Regions from separate parts of the Homo sapiens genome. Here region 2 is linked to region 1. Evidence: fine-mapped QTL for protein levels in blood plasma. A gene starts in region 1. The other region holds a variant in brackets. All regions are shown on one strand. Distances are from middle to middle.

What was found. A credible set is the group of variants that fine-mapping cannot tell apart. PIP is the chance, under the fine-mapping model, that this variant and not a neighbour inherited with it causes the effect. The UK Biobank Pharma Proteomics Project read protein levels with antibody pairs (Olink). The fine-mapping took linkage between variants from a reference panel, not from the people measured, so its PIPs are less certain.
Region 2: its variant is the best candidate, but not a certain one, in a credible set for the plasma level of the CPE protein (UK Biobank, PIP 0.85).

Annotation. Positions count from the first base shown.
Region 1 is chr4:165,375,910-165,381,297 of GRCh38, reverse strand. CPE (carboxypeptidase E) reads right to left here and starts at 2,290. Exons shown (of 9, transcript NM_001873.4): 1 at 1,770-2,290. The coding sequence starts at 2,076. RefSeq lists an enhancer at 1-518 and a silencer at 1,998-2,257.
Region 2 is chr4:165,254,660-165,260,047 of GRCh38, reverse strand. All of the region lies in intron 4 of KLHL2 (kelch like family member 2), which reads right to left. Among named protein-coding and RNA genes, the nearest start is that of GK3, 22 kb to the left of the region's middle. The variant T/C (reference allele first, on the strand shown) is at 2,068.

The sequences.
Region 1 (5,388 bases):
TTCATACAGCTTGCAATCTAAAAGAAGGATTTGCAAACCTTGATGAACTATATATTCCAGATACTTAAGCAAAGAAATCATTGTTTTCATTTTCTAAAGCATATCACATTCTAACTGTAATATCACTTTAAAATTTTATTTCCAAATTTGAAACAACAAAAAGTTAAACATTAGCTTTCATATAATCTCTTGAAGTAACAACGCAAAAAACTCTGGGATCAATCTACAAAATAGAGTAACAAAGGGTTCTCATTAAGTAAGCAGCAGGAGACTCACAAATACTTACATTAGCTTTAACTGTGCCTAGGATATCTTGGCTTTGGTTATTGGATTTAGCTGAAAATCAGTTATCACATTTTAAATTTTTCCCTGTCTTCAGATAACAGTATGAAACTAAGTTTCAAAATGTCCAATCCTACATGCTGAATCCTGGTAGATAAGAGTAGTTAATATTAAATGTTTTCTAGGATCTGATCTTAGAATTTTGACAGCAAACTTACATGAACCTTTTTTTCTTATATTATTTGAAGGTAAGAAATATTTCCTGAAGATTTATTCTTGATCAACCCACCTACTATATATTTGAAGATCAAAATGTCTATTGATCACTTATTTTAATCTCTTCTCAGTTTGGTTCTTACGTATCATTATAAAACTATACTGGCCCTGCACTGAGAATTTTTAGCCTACTTTTCTTGCTTGCTTTGTCATTAAACAAAAATTAAGCATCCATCCCATGCTGATATTATTAGCACAGATTACTTTAGCTGTACCTTGATTATCAGAAGACCAGGCCCAAATTATTTCCTAAGCAGAAACATAACGAAAAAAGTCCCAAGAACATTTTTAAATACCTCTTTATTAATACTAAATGCATCACAATTAACATAAACCAAAAGGTGCTTTAATATACTCCTAGGAAAGACGAATACAGATGGTTATTTGGGAACATCAGTTGGAATAAAGACCCCATCACAAACTATTCATCTCAAATGGTTATAGCAGAGAAAATGGAATACTCCTTTTTCCTTGGAAAGGCCTTGTGCAGTTTCAAAATCTGGTTTCAAAAGTCAGAAACCACTTTTCACCCTGGTAGGAGGAGGGGCACCAACGTATCTTTATACACCACCACCCCAGATTGGCAATATCCCTAAGATTCCCCAAGCATCCACAGCAGCGAGTGTACCTAATACGTATACACACACAGGTAGAGATGGGTACACAGAGCCAATAAACTGGTCCTCTGGAAATTAGAGAAAACATGATAAATGACTCTTTCTCCCTCGTTCTCCTTTCCTCTCAATCACTGCCTTCTGCACCTTATCTTTCTACTCTTGTCAGCAAGGAAGACCAACCCCCCTTGCGGGGGACTCGCAATCATTCCTTTGGGTTTTTCACACAGCAAAGTGAGAGCGACCGCTGGGGTTGCGTGCGTCAGGATTTGTTTTTTCTGTATTGCTATCCCCCCCATCCCCCGCCACCCCAGCCTCCCAAGCCTATACTTACTAGAGGGTGGCCTAAGGTCTGGGGAGATGGGATTGGTGCTGGGGGGATGGGACGGGAAAGCAGAAATTGGGCCACTGGCGCTCTAAGTCGGGTTCTTCCCCATTTCCATCCCTCCCTCCACTTCCCACCTTCCACCTTAGATACCTTTTACCAAGAGGCACCCCTGGGCCCATCCCTCCCTCCTTCCCCCACCGCCACCAGTCCCACCCTCTGCCGCCCCCCTCCGGGATGCCCCCAGGGCTGTCAGGGGGCAGCGCCCTTACCAGGCTCATGGACGCCAGGGTTGTCGGACAGCTCGATGACCAGGAGCTCCCGGCCCTCGAAGCTGCGCCCCACCGTGTAAATCCTGCTGATGGCGGTGCACTGCAGCCACACGGACACGAGCGCCTCGCGCAGCTCGGGGTAGCGGTGGTACTCGAAGGAGATGCCGTCCTCTTGCTGCAGCCGCCGGCGCCGCCTCATGCCCGCCGCGGGCGCCCCGGGCTCCTGGGCTTCGGCGCCCAGGAGCCACCCGCAGGCAGCCAGTGCCCCGCACAGAGCCAGCAGCGCGCTGCCCCCTCGCCCGGCCATCGCTGCGCTCCGCCGCCGCCGGCCGTGCCTTCCTACGCGGGCGGCCTCTTTTGTCTGCCCGGCCCTGGGCTTAGCCCGCCGGCGCTGCTGGGGGCGGCAAGTTCCGCACCAGCCTCTACTCGCCTCACCTTCCCCGGCTGAATGAGTGTCAGCCCGCGCACTGGGGCCACCCAGAGGAGACGGGCAAAGCCGCGGCTCCACGGGCTGCACTACTGGCCGCGGAGCCCAGGGGAGCTGCAGGAGAAACCACTGCGAGGAGGGGGCCGGCGGAGAGACGGGCCGGCGTGGATCTGGGAGGGCTGCTGGCGTTATTTGCTGGCTCGGAACCACGTCAACAGCCAAATGGCGTCCGGGACGACGCAGGTGAAATGACAGCTAAGGTCCGGGGTTCGGGAACGTTACTGTCATTGAGACACCCATGACCCACCCACGTCACTGCGTATGGAAAAAATATTCTTGTATTGTTAGTGGAGCCTTTTAAAGGGACATCTATTCCAAGCCTACCAGTTTCCATCTTGATCCACCAAGAATTAGAGAATATTCCAGAAAAAAGGAAGTACTGGCAGCCACTTGCCATCTCCTGATGCGTCTTTCATAATTGTATCAAGAGTCAAAACACAAACCCAAGGGTTGGGTTTTCATTTATTAGAAGGTCTTGCTGGAAATCAGAACATTAAGTGCTTTGATTTAGAGGTTTAAGAGAATAGAAATGCTTTCTTCCAATTTGTAGATACTGTCCTTAATTGTATTTATGCACATTCCTAGATTCTTCCAGAAAACAAACAGACAAAATAAATAAGGCAATGTCATATGGCTGTGCCTGCACCAGCCCTCCTCTTTAATACTATGGGGAAAATAAGTACAACTCTGCTGATGCTTTAGACAAAGGATTTAGTTTGGCATTAAGATTAAATCCTGTTAAGAAAACTCTGATGATGACATGACACCTCCGTTCCTTTTGCAAAGCTATTGTAAAAATAAAAAATCATTTACAGCTTTAAATATCCACCCCTTAGTCGGGATTTATATTCCTGGAGCAATGTCTGGAGCAGATGTTACTCTAAAGAGGCTGCTGTTTGGATTCAGGGACAGCACAAATCTAAATTAATAAATAATCCATTGGGTATTGCAACCGAGCAGGAAAAGTGGACACCATGCGGGTAATTTTCCATGTTAAGCTTCTTTGTTTTTCTAAACTTGTTCATTCTTCACCTGTTTAACAATGCATTGCACATAATAAAAACTTTTACGTGGAAAAGGAGTTAGATATTTAAGTCATCTTATTGGATCAATAAATAAAAGCACAGACATGGTTGGTAAGGTGCTGCTGGAGGGGCTGGCTTTAAACACCCCTATGTACATATACTACAGCAGCATGGATCTTCTTTTTTTTTTTTTTTTTTTTTTTGCGTTTTCGGGGAGAAACTGTCACTGTAAACACATGGCACTCAAGTTGAATTGATGTGGATCCAGCCATTTTTTTTTTTGTCAATGTAGGCAGAGCTAAAAATTGTATATTTTCCACTATGACCAGTCTGTGCTTGATTACATGGTCCAGAAGTTTGAAATCAAACTTATAATTATATTTCTAAAACCATGCCCAAAACAGCAACCTTGGAAGCCTAGAAAAAAAAATTGAGTAGCTAAAACCAAATAACTTCAGAAGTAGGAGGTTAAGATTTTCATGTTAGCAATTTAGAGTAACCACACTAATTTGTGGCTAGGTGGGGCATACTGACTAGTAACTACACACATAAACAACATATTTTTCATTGAAGTCCTGTGTTGTTCCTTAGCTGTCTCTTTGAACAAAGGATATGCGTTCTATTTTCTCCAAAATAAAAAATTTTGGAATGAAAACTTGGTCTTTGAATTTCTGGGCTATTTTTAGGTGTAGGTCAGCTGTACCAACTTTACTGGCATATGTATTACTTGTTTGTGGCTTCATAGGCAATTATACAAAAGATTATATATCCACCCTGATTGCTGGATTTAAAAAATTTTATTTTGGAGAAAAAAAAATTGTAATGTGTAAAATCATGCCTACTATGTGGTCTCACTTGTTGGGCAGGGGGTTCTCTTTTACAGCTTAGTTGTTTGTTTCCCTAATCTATAAAATAAAAGGTTTGGATTTTTCACTCTCTAACGTTTGCTTGCAACAGAATCATGTAGAGAGTTTATAGAATGTGCAGATTCTTAAGCCCCTATGAATTCATCAGGTCTGGGGTGGGTTTCAGGTATTAACAAGCTTCTAGGTTTTAAAAAGAAGACCAGTCATTTCTGATGTTGATGTTTGATTGACAAAGACATTTTGAGAAATAATGTACTGTAGGTTTCCCACTGTCTCTTTCAGACCTAAAATGCTATGATTCTGGAAATTTTCTTTTTGAAGTGAATTCCTGCTCATTTGATAAATGGTGGCACTCCTCACATATTATTGGTCGTACTACATACACCAAGGCATCAGTTCAAATGAACTAAAATTTGGTCTTTGAATTTCTGAGCTATTTTAGGTATAGGTCAGCTGTATCAACTTTACTGGCGTATGGATTACTTGTTTGTGGCTTCATAGGCAATTATGTAAAAGATTATATACCCATCCTGATTGCTGGATTAAAGAAAAATCTTGTATGCCAAGTCTTTAATGTGTGTACACATAGTTAAATTTAGTATGCAATCTCCATTTCAAATCATGTGCACACATGCACACACAAGAAACAAAAAGAGAAAGAAAGAGCTGCTTTTTCTTCATGTCATTATAGGCATCCATAAGAGCATATTTAAACTCCCTAGGTCTCCCTCCACTTCTTGCTTCACCTCTATTATCTTTAAATTAAGAAACTATCTTTTTCTTTATCAATAATATTTTATTTCCTTCTTTCAAAGCCCTTCCTAAAATTCGTCTACTTCATAAAAATTTTGTGAACACATAGCTCTATATTCATCCTGATGTGTGCTGGTAAATGTCAGCTGTCTGGGGGGAAAAGTCTGACTTAGAATGTTTGCTAATTTCCATGGTTTAAATATTCCCACCATGGCTGATTTCAAACTACCAATGTTGTATCACTGAATACAGTGTTAGGAAGAGATATGCAGTAGCATGACATCATATAGTGTTGTGATGGGACAATTCTTTATACTCCTCCTTTGCAAGTGATGAAACTTAATTTCTTCCATCTGAGTGTAGGCAGGACTTAGTGGTTTTCTCATGAACATAACACAGCAAAAGTAATGAGATGATCTTCCAAAATTAGGTTATTAAAAAGACTGCAGCTCCCATCTTAATTGCTCTCTCATGCTTGTGTGTGCGCT
Region 2 (5,388 bases), 120 kb after region 1:
TATTTTGGGTGCCAAACAGCCACTTAAAACAAAATTTAAAATGCTCTGACTTCAGATGAACCACATCCCATGATCAAAACCACTCAAACAGCTGTCACCCTGCAAGCTGAAAGTTTTGAGATCAAATCAAATCAAACCTTCTAATTTGTGTGATGAAGAAACCACACCCTCGAGGGGTTAAACGGCTTGACCAAGTCATACAGCGAGTCATGGAAAGCTAGGGATATAATCAAATTGGTCAGCTCTTTGGTCTACTGTTCTAATACCTTCAACCCCAAATTTAGGTGCAGAATGGAAGTATTTGTATAATTTCTAAATCTCCAACACTGTCCTTTTCATGAAGAATAATAAAGACAACAACCACTTCAACAATGCATTATTGCAGTTACTTCCATTTACTGAGTAATTACTACATCAGGCACTGTGCTAAGCACTTGCCAGACAATAATATCTCATTATCTCCATCATACACAAGCGAATACAGAGGGTAGGAGAAGTTGGGTAACTTGCTAAAGGTCACACACCTGGTATGGGACAGGCCAAGCCTGCTATGAGAGCGGTACTAACCAAAATGTGCATAATGATTTTAGATGACATACAGATAAACTTCTTGCATTAATAGTTAAGAATATAGGTTCAGGGCAGGCTTGGTGGCTCACACCTGTAATCCCAGCACTTTGGGAGGCTAAGGTGGGCAGAGCATTTGAGGTCAGGAGTAGGAGTTCAAGACCAGCCTGGCCAACATAGCAAAACCTCGTTTCTACTAAAAATACAAAAATTAGCTGGGCATGGTGGTGCACACCTGTAATCCCAGCTACTTGAGAGGCTGAGGAAGGAGAATTGCTTGAACCCAGGAGGCGGAGGTTGCAGTGAGCCAAGATCGGACCACTGTACTCCAGCCTGGGTGACACAGTGAGACTCCATCTCAAAGAAAAAAAAAAAAGAATATAGGTTCATAGTTAGAAATACATTTTTTTAAGTTATTTTCCATTTATTTCAATAATACAATAATATAAACATTCCTTCTCAAGTAAACTTATTTAAGCAAAAATTGACTCACTGTAGAGAAAAACATTAAAAATTTAATAGCATCAGCACTTGTAGAATATAGCAAAATCCTGAAGCTGGCCCACAAATGATTACAAGTGATCAGAATTTGGAAAACCCTGATTTAGGAGATCAGATTTAATATTCTAGTCTTTCAATATCTAATGTAATTCTGATCCTGTGGTTTTACATATCACTGAAAATGAAGAATGTGCTTTAATCTGGAGCTATCATAATCCCTTGGCTTACTTTCTACTGAAGTAGATACATTGTACTATTGGTAACAAATGTGAGAAACACCTAGCAATGTAAAGAGGTGATTTCTTAATTTGCTATTTAGGTCACAAAAATATCTTGGGCATTGTAACTAAAAGGTCCAATGAATAAATTTATGTCTTTGAAACTTATTTTCTGAGCTCTCTGAAGCAAAGGAGCAGTTGAACAGTGCTGCTTCTCATATGAGGTAGAATTACATTGATACAATAAACCCCCAGCCACCATCTAATGGAAATTTCCATCTAGTGCAGAGTTGCACTAGTGTTAACCCTGAGATTGATTAAAAATAACCCCAAGGCACTCTATGATCCTTTTTTTTTTTTTTTTTTGTCATAGTTAAGCACAGACCATCATGCAGTACCTTGGATTTCTATACAGTACTCTTGGTATGATATGAAAAAAAAAATTCTGCCCTAAATTTTGTTATTCTCTGGATTTAAGTATATTCCAAAACATCAAAGATGGAGCAATTATAATTTGATATATATTTTGAATGTTAAAAATATTTTCTAAGAATCTAAGAGTGATTAAATTCCATATAGTGTATGCACTGAGGGAAGGCCACACTCCAAAAGCCAAAATATCTCTCTTGGGTACATCTGCCTCTAGGAAAAATGTAAAGCGGACAGTGAATGTAAAGAGGCCCTCGCCCCTCCTTCCTACATCCTTCTCCTTTAGTTCTATTCCATCAACCGAACCCTGAGTCTCTTCACTCTCAGTTTATCTGTGTGCCATCTAAAATCA[T/C]GAGAACCCTGGTGTTCTCACCATGGGCTCAGTCCCTTTCAAGTCACTACTAACAGCACTGCTCCATTTCATTTGCTTCACAGCACCTACTGCTGTCAGCACTGATGTTATGTATTTGTTCCCATGTTTACTGTCTTCCTGCAAAGGAATGTAAGCTCTGTGGCAGTAGGATCACGTCTGTTACCCCCTGCCACATCCTCAGGTCTCAGAATGTGTACCTCATAAATGAATCAACCTGAACATAATTTTATGACTCCCATGTGTATTTCTATTTTGAGATACAATTGTGCATGTCCTTTGAGACAAAATTACAAGCTCTGTTTCTAGGAATGTATATGTACCAGACACTTCTTGTAGCCTACCACAAATCTTCTCAGCCTTACTTCTTGCCCAACCCACCACTGCAGCAACCAGGCCCAAGCAGGCTTTGACCACCTTTCTGAAGATGTAACGTAACAGGGCCTCACCCCAGCCCCTGGCCATACCTCTCTCTGGCTTCCTATCCTAGGCCTTCAGTGATGCACTGGGCTCATACCCACACAGTCTGGAAGCATGCAGGAAATAATGCTGTGGGACCACCCTTGACTAGTGGAGAATGCATCAAAGGAAGAGAAATACTTCCCCCTGGTATTCTCCTAGAAGACAGTTCTGAGACATATTTTATAAGGCTTTCAAAGGTCCCGTCACATGTAGCTATGGCCAGATCTGTACTGCACCTATGAACCGGTTTTCCCTCCTTTCCAGCTCAAGTCCTCCATTCACTCACTGTGGCTCCTTGGGATCACTTCCCAAATAAATGAACTGCACATAAGCCTTGCTTGCAGAAGGACCCCAAGCTGTTATATTACACAATGGAACAAACTGCGAATGTGAATATACTTAGCTAAAGAACTATTAATTATAGTGCTGTTTAAATTATAAAAAATTGAGAAGAACTTAAATGTCCAATAACAAGAGAAAAATAAAGTCAATTCTATAATATCAATGAAATTGAATATTTTTCAGCTCTTAAAAGAGATACAGTAGACAAATATTTAATGACTTGGAAAAATGTTTCTAATACATTTAGTATAAAAAGCTAGTTTCTAAAAGAATCTACAGTATGACCCCTTTTTTGGGTAAACACATGTGTACATAACAACAAACAGTATTAGAGGGCTATACCACAATTGTTAATATGTTTTATCTCTGGTTAGGTGTGATATGAACATTTCCTATTTATTTTTACATATTTGTTAAATTTTATGTATTTGTTAAGTGGTGCATTTTCTATGTACCATTTAAATGGTCAAATATTATTTAAAAGAAAGTCAGGGAGAAGCAAGTAAAGAAATTTCTTTCTGGATCTCTACAATGCTAGCAAATATAACAAGGGTTAAGGGGAGCTATATATGGACTGTGGCTTCTCCGGGAAATATTACCCACCACTCACTAGAGATTGCCTCACTTTGGCGTGTTGAAAGGCCTTTGGAGTCTGAAAGGCCTTTGATCATCAAGCCAGTGTTTTGTAGAACAGTAACCAGGCTCTACACGTTACTCTTCCTGTTCGGTGAACAGCAACAGTTTTAAGTGTTTGGAGAAACATGAAGTAGAAGGACATAGCACCTGATTAAATAAATCTAACTTAAAATGTTGTCATTTTGAAAAACGGGGAAAAAAAAGCTTTTTTATTTGTACATGTTGATTTCCAACCAATGGAGACAAATAAAAGGCTGCACATTTTTTACCGTGGAGATGCTTTCTGCAATAAACAAAGAAACGGAGGGGAGAAGCCACCACTGATCAGAGAAGACACTGTAGAGCATGAGAAATGGAAGACACCCAAGCCAAACAATTAGCATCTGTGTGACACTCTCACACCAGCTGCACATTGTAAAGATGCTTTCATCCTACTTCACATTGTTTGACAAGCCAAATTACATAGAAGATGTTTCGCTTAGACAAGTATACTCCTTCTGCTTGGCTATTAGGATCTGTAGTTTATTTTCAGCTTGCATATTTATTCCATAGGGGGAAATAATTTATGTAGTATGTCTTTTAAATCCTGAGCCATTAGCAGTTTGCTTATTAGGAAGAGACTACCAAAGGGTCCGATTGCTCCACATATATATAACTTCTAAATATCTAAGAAAACATGCAAGCATGAAAAGACAGCTTTTGTTGTTGCTGTTGTTTTTGACTCAGCTAGCCATAGCTATCCTGCAAGGTGGAGCTTGGGGAGGAGTGTGGGGAGAAGGTAGGCAAGGGTGATGTGTTTAGAAGATGAAACGCTTAGTGACAAGAAAGGCAGATCTGGGTGGAGAGTCATGGTTGGATGCACATAGCAGAGGGCTGGGTTTTGCGGCCAAGGAGTAGGGTTTTGAGATGTAGAAGTATGAATAAGGAGATGGCAGAGTGCCAAGGACAAACATTTCCTATGTCAAAACTCTGCACCGGGCCAGCCCCCTACATCCCAGAAAGAGGAAGGAAACTTTCTTCCTCCTCCTTTCCTGTACCCCACATGCAACCTCGCCTGCCTCCTCCCAACACTCCACCCCTAGGAATAGGTATGTCCCACAGAGTTTAAAAAAAACAAAAACAACCTCCCCCTCCCCACAAAAAAACTGTCTGATTAGCTCATATTAATGGCTAATAACACAAGATCTTCCAGAATAAATCCCTTCTAGGGGTTTTTAACATTTTAAGAGAGGTTGACTCTTAAGCAGAATACAACTGCAATTGGTGGCATTTCCAATGTTATAATTAATGAAGTAGAAAAGCAAAGGTAGTATGGAGAGGAGAAATTTGGGGGCAAAGCAGCCTCAGGCAGACTGAAAGCCATCTCTCCTACACTATCCTTTTTCCAGTTGCTACTTCTACTACTTTTAACCCAAGGTTTCTCTTAAAAGTCCAACTTATTTGAGAGTGGCTCAAATGGATAATGAAGACACCACCTACCTTTCAGGGTTATTGAAAAATTAAATGTCAGTCAACGATTTAACACAATGCATGGCAATGACCATGTAGCACATCAGCTCTGACTCAGCGCTTTTTTTCTTGGATTGAACATTCTACCTCATGAGAATTGAACACCAAGATTTACTCTCTCCCGCATAAGATGATGTTTTATCCCAGATCATTCACAATATAGGTAGCTTCCTTTTTTGATCAAATATTCTCAACATAAAAGATGTAATCAGGGAAAATTTGCAAAAGAAGAAACATAGCATACAAAAATGATAAATGTATTTGATGCCTCATTAGTTATCAAGCGAATATAGAACCATGAGAGTGCATTTTATAACTACAATACAAAATGTTTTTACTTTTCTTTCTAGCACC